Regions from separate parts of the Homo sapiens genome. Here region 1 is linked to region 2. Evidence: fine-mapped expression QTL. Tissue or cell type: sigmoid colon. Region 2 holds a variant in brackets; the other region holds the start of a gene. All regions are shown on one strand. Distances are between the middles of the regions.

Region 1 (2,680 bases), 80 kb after region 2:
AAATTACCCGAGTGTAGTGGCGCGTGCCTGTAGTCCCAGCTACTCGGTAGGCCGAGGTGAGGATCGCTTGAGCCCAGGAGGTCAAGGCTGCAGTGCGCCTCGATCACACCACTGCACTCAGCCTAGGCAGCAGAGTGAGACTCTGTCTCGAAAAAATAAAATAACAAAATTTATTAAATACCTTCTATGTGCCAGGCACTATATTAGGGACTGGAGCCACCACCACAAGCTAGAGAAGACCCTTGCCCTCCAAGAGCTTAGACTCTAATGAGAGAGTAATACAAATTACAGACTACATGAATGCAAGAAATACACAGAGCGTTGTAGAAAGAGAAAACCAAGGTTACAGAAGGACTCTGAGGAAACTAGCATTTGAGATCTACAAGACAGACCGGGATAAAAGTTGGGGAAGAGTTTTTACAGGTCAGGAATCCTTACCCCAACTTTCCCAAGAAAAGGCCCTAAGGTAGAAAGAACTAGGTTGCATAAGCAAAATGTGCCAAAAGCCTGAGCGACCGAAGCACTTTTGCAGAAGCCCCCCGCTCCTCATCTCCTATCACATCTTCTGCTCAATCAAGCTGGGCCTTGTCGACTTCGGAAAGGCGTTTGGATTTTGTTCTAAAAGCACTGGGAGCCACTCAAGAGTTTTAAGCAGAAGCGTATCTACACTAGGCTTACGCTTTTACAGGACCACTCTGGTTGGCGTGTAGTGAATACACGACTCTCCAATTACTCAGAACAGTGAGTGGCAAAGACAACAGGTCTGGCAATCAGAGAACTCGTGGCCCAGTTAGGGGTGCGATGGTTGGAGCTACTGCGGTCTCTGTGGCTGAGGGGAGGCGCCAGGCACGAGTACTGCGACAGAGCCCCGCGAGTGGCAGGCACCCGGCTGCACTGCAGAGCCGGGGCCAGCCTAGAACCCCGCTCTCCTGCAGGCCCGGGTGTCCCGAGCTGCCCCACGCGGAGGAGTCCAAGTAGGCCCACGCTAGGCTCCTCTGCCGAAACCCTGGTGCCAAGGACACCATGCTCGCTGCACACAGAACCCCAAAGCGACCCCACCTTCCCAGCATACCCAGCGCCTCACCCGCCGCGGGAAACCCTCCGCTCGCCTCCGCTGCTACCACTTTTACCGCGGCCAGCACGCGGGGCGGGACCTCGCAGCGTCGAGGAGCGTGCTGGGGGGCGGGTCCTAAAGCAGAACTGGAAAGCTATCCCATCACACCCCGCGAGCTCCCACAGTGCTCAGCGGCAGCCACTATGGAGGCCGCCAGGACCGCTGTACTCCGGGTGAAGCGGAAGCGCAGTGCGGAGCCGGCGGAGGCTCTTGTGCTCGCTTGTAAACGCCTCCGGAGCGACGCGGTCGAGTCAGCGGCACAGAAGACGTCGGAGGGTTTGGAGAGAGCGGCGGAGAATAATGTCTTCCACTTGGTGGCCACTGTGTGCTCCCAGGTATTGGGCGTGGTGCAGCTGGTGTGGAGGGCATCTTCGGGTGCAGCCGGTACGAAACCCGATCCCTGACCCGCTCGCGAACTCCTGCTTACGCTGGCCTCCGTCCCCTGTTGCCCCCTAGGAGGAACCAGTCCAGCCTCTCCTGCGGGAAGTTCTGCGCCCGTCACGGGACAGCCAGCAGCGTGTCCGCCGTAATCTCCGCGCCTCGGCTCGGGAGGTCCGGCAGGAGGGCCGCTACCGGGTGCTTTCCAGCCGCCGATCCTTGGGGACCACCTCGAGCGGCCAGGAGTCCGAGTACACGCCGGGGAACCCAGAAGCCGCCGGGAACTCGGGCTTTCAGTTGTTAGACCTTGTCCACGAGGAGGGAGAACCTGAAGCCGCCTCTGCAGGCTCCTGCAAAGTGAGTATGCCCCTGAAGGTGGTCGCTGGGCTTCTCAGGATGGTAATGCAAGAAGACTGGGCCCAGTCGCAGCACAGTTTCATCTTAAGGGGATGGATGATCCATCCGGCGTGACGGCCTCATTTTACAGATTTGGTTGTTCATCCAACATGTGTTTACTACGTGCCTACGATATGCCAGGTATTTTTTTAGATTCTGTGGATACAGCAGTGAGGACCTAACATGCAGGTAGACAGAAACAGTAAACAAGTCTATTCAGTGTCAGATGATGATAAGGGATGTAAGGAGGCGGGGAGACAAAGCAGGAAGAGTGGTGCCACTTCAGTGAGAGTGTCACTGAGGAAATGACATTTGAGTGAAGACTTGCAGAAGGTGAATGGCAGGGTATTCCACATATCGAGAGGACTTCTAGGCAGAGAACCTGAAAGTAAAGAGGCCCTTAAGCCGTTTCTTTGCTCCTTGCAAGGTGCCTGGAGCCCGGTGAGCTAGAGGAGAGCAGTAAGGAATTTGAGGGGAGGATGCCTGCTAGGTACTTGCAAGGACATTGCCTTTCACCCTGACTGAGATGGGGATCACTGGAGCAAAATAGAGATAGAGCAGGTAGGAAAATTGATCAAAGAGAGGTTAAAGGAATAGTCCTGGATAGCATATCAAGTTTGAGGTAGATTTAGGTCTAGAATGCAAGTTTTCTCACATTTAATCCAGTGCTTTTCTTTATATTACATTTGCTAACTTCATTTGCAATCACTTCCAAAAAAAGTCTACTACATGCAGCAAAACTACAGAAATGGAAAATTCTCCTTGAGGCTGGGCACAGTAGCTGACGCCTAA
Region 2 (2,680 bases):
AACACCATTCTACCCTCTTAGATGTCCCCCAGATATGTGACCCTTCTCTCTTCCCACTGCCTTGGCCCTGCCATCTCCCTGCTTTGCCTACTGCACTGGCCTTCCTGCTTGTCTCCCCTCCTGCCCACCCCATGCTCCCTGTAGAATTATCTTTCCAAATGGATAACTGATCACTGAATACCTACAAAGAGTTGTCACCAATATCATCTCATCTAATTCTCCCAACAGCCTTGCAAAGTAGTAGAAACCCAATGCTCAGAGAGACTAAGTGAAGGCCCAGTGTTGCCCAGGGCCAGATTTGAACCTAGATTGGACTCTGAAGTGCACAGTCTTTCCAAGTGTGTCTCCCACCTTTGTAGTCCAAACTTCTGAAAGGATGTCAGGTCCACAATATACACAACAATTAATGACTGGCAGATGAATGGGCTTCATATGTAATCATATCTTCAACTTCATCTTCTTCAGTATCTACAGTCAAGTTGATCTCCCTTCTGAGTCCAACTAACAGAGATCCAGGCCCTCTGTTTTGCTGCTTCTTTGGGGGAAATGAGGAATTAACATTTTGTTAATCAAAATCAAAATGTGTACTTTCCTGTTAAAGACAACTCCCTCATGTGACTTCAATTATTTACTAGCAGAGTTACTTGCACTTTTAAGGGCAGAATTTTTTCAAGCATAAAATGACGAACTACAGCTTTGTCTTAATTCCCCATTAGCTTATGTCCTAATCTTTGTTCACTGAGGTGGGGGCACTGTCCACCTCACTGGAAGATCAAGTTGAACCAACCACTCACCACCCTGTAGTGTTACTTGGAGATCTAGGAGGTTTGAAGGGTAGCTCCTCTCACCAGCCATCCCTAGCAGCTACTCTGGGATACTTCTGCACCTCTCCCCCAGGGTCTCACCCAAATGCAGACAGGCTGCCTGACCATGCCTGTCCAACCATGGCACCCTCCTTGCCTTGGTGGTGTTGTCAGAGGTGTTTGAACCGGGCAACTCCATCTTGAATAGGTGCTGGGTAAAATGAGGCTGAGACGTGCTGGGCTGCATTCCCAGAAGGTTAGGAATTCTTATTCTTTGTTTGTTTATTTTGAGACAGGTCTCACTTTGTCACCCAAGCTGGAGTGCAGTGGCGCCATCACAGCTCACTGCAGCCTTGAACTCCTGGGCTCCAGCGATCTTCCCACTTCAGCAGCGCAAGTAGCTGGGACTACAGGCATGCACCACCACACTCAGCTAGTTTTTGTATATTTTTTAGAGACAGGGTTTCACCATGTTACCCAGGCTGGTTTCAAATTCCTGAGCTCAAGAGATCTGCCTGCCTAAGCCTCCAAAGTGCTGGGATTACAGGCGTCAGCCACCACATCCAGCCTAGGTTAGGCATTCTTAGTCACAGGATGAGATAGGAGGTCAGCACAAGATACAGGTCACAAAGACTCCGCTGATGAAAATAGGATGCAGTAAAGAAGCTAGCCAAAACCTGCCAAAAGCAAGATGGTGAACAAAACAACCCTGGTTGTCCTCACTGCTCATTATATGCTAATTATAATGCATT[G/A]GCATGCCAAAAGACACTCCCACCAGCGCCGTGACAGTTTACAAATGCCAGGGCAATGTTCCAGAAGTCACCCTTGGTTTTATATGGTCTAAAAAGGAGAGGAACCCTCAGTTTCAGGAATTGCCCACCCCCTTCCTGGAAAACGCATAAATAATCCACCCCTCGTTTAGCACACGATCAAGAAATAACCATAAAAATAGCCAACCAGCACCCTCTGGGCTGCTCTGTCAATGAGGTAGCCATCCTTCTGTTTCTTCTCTAATGAACTTGCTTTCACTTTACTGTGTGGACTCACCCTGAACTCTTTCCTGTGCAAGGTCCCAGAACCCTTTCTTGAGGTCTGGATCAGGACCCCTTTCCCATAACACTGGGGACTTAAAGGTAACCCCTTCACTAGGGTTCAGTCAAGATTTTTCCCCAAGGTGAGCAGCTGCTCTTCACTCTCACTCACCCCAAACTTCAACTGTAGCATGAGGCTGGGAGGCCCCAGGTCTGCATGAGGTCTGACACTGACAGTCAGATGGAAGGCTGTGTGACTTTGGGTACATTACTAAACCTCTAGGCTCCAGCCTCATCGAAGGTACCTGGCCCCAGTATCACCATGTGGGTAAATAAATCAACCTCCTAGGTGCCCTTTGCAAACATTATTTCTGGACCTGTGAAGTCAGTGTTATCCTCATTTTAAGAAGGCAGCAACTGAGGCTTGGAGAGAGGCCCCAGGGAACAGGTCCATCCATCTCCACAGCTGGTTCTGCTACAAAGGAAAGGTGGAGGTATCCAGGAAACTGACCAAGCTCAGTGCATCTAGGGACATCTCCCGTGGAGCTGCACATCCATCAGGGGTCACCCCAGGTACTGGTCTGTGGTCTTGGGGCCTGTGGGATTGAGGCCTCCTGGTGGACAGGCAGGCAGGCAGGAGCGTGCTTGGGACCACTGCTGGCTCCAGACACTGCCTTGCTGTGCTAGGTAAACGGCCCACTTTCCACACCCGCCCCCCAGGCCCTCCCTGCTCTGCTCCTACTGCCTATTTAAGCCAGAGGCCTGACTCGGCCCAGGCACAAGCCAGCTGCCAGAGCCAGGAGAGCAGCATTGCAGGCCCTGCTCAGCCGGGATGAAAGGTTCTTC

What was found. PIP is the estimated chance that this variant, and not a neighbour inherited with it, causes the effect.
Region 1: PRMT7 starts here. The variant in region 2 is fine-mapped to the expression of PRMT7 in sigmoid colon (GTEx, PIP above 0.99). The same link has a PIP of 0.9 or more in esophagus muscle and tibial nerve.

What each region holds. Positions count from the first base shown.
Region 1 is chr16:68,309,504-68,312,183 of GRCh38, reverse strand. PRMT7 (protein arginine methyltransferase 7) reads right to left here and starts at 1,165. Exons shown (of 19, transcript NM_019023.5): 1 at 1,085-1,165; 2 at 8-142. SLC7A6OS (solute carrier family 7 member 6 opposite strand) reads left to right here and starts at 1,238. Exons shown (of 5, transcript NM_032178.3): 1 at 1,238-1,449; 2 at 1,571-1,849. The coding sequence starts at 1,258. RefSeq lists an enhancer at 1,269-2,233.
Region 2 is chr16:68,389,072-68,391,751 of GRCh38, reverse strand. The region is part of intron 1 of SMPD3 (sphingomyelin phosphodiesterase 3); the gene reads left to right. Among named protein-coding and RNA genes, the nearest start is that of SMPD3, 58 kb to the left of the region's middle. RefSeq lists a silencer at 952-1,246 and an enhancer at 2,063-2,680. The variant G/A (reference allele first, on the strand shown) is at 1,556.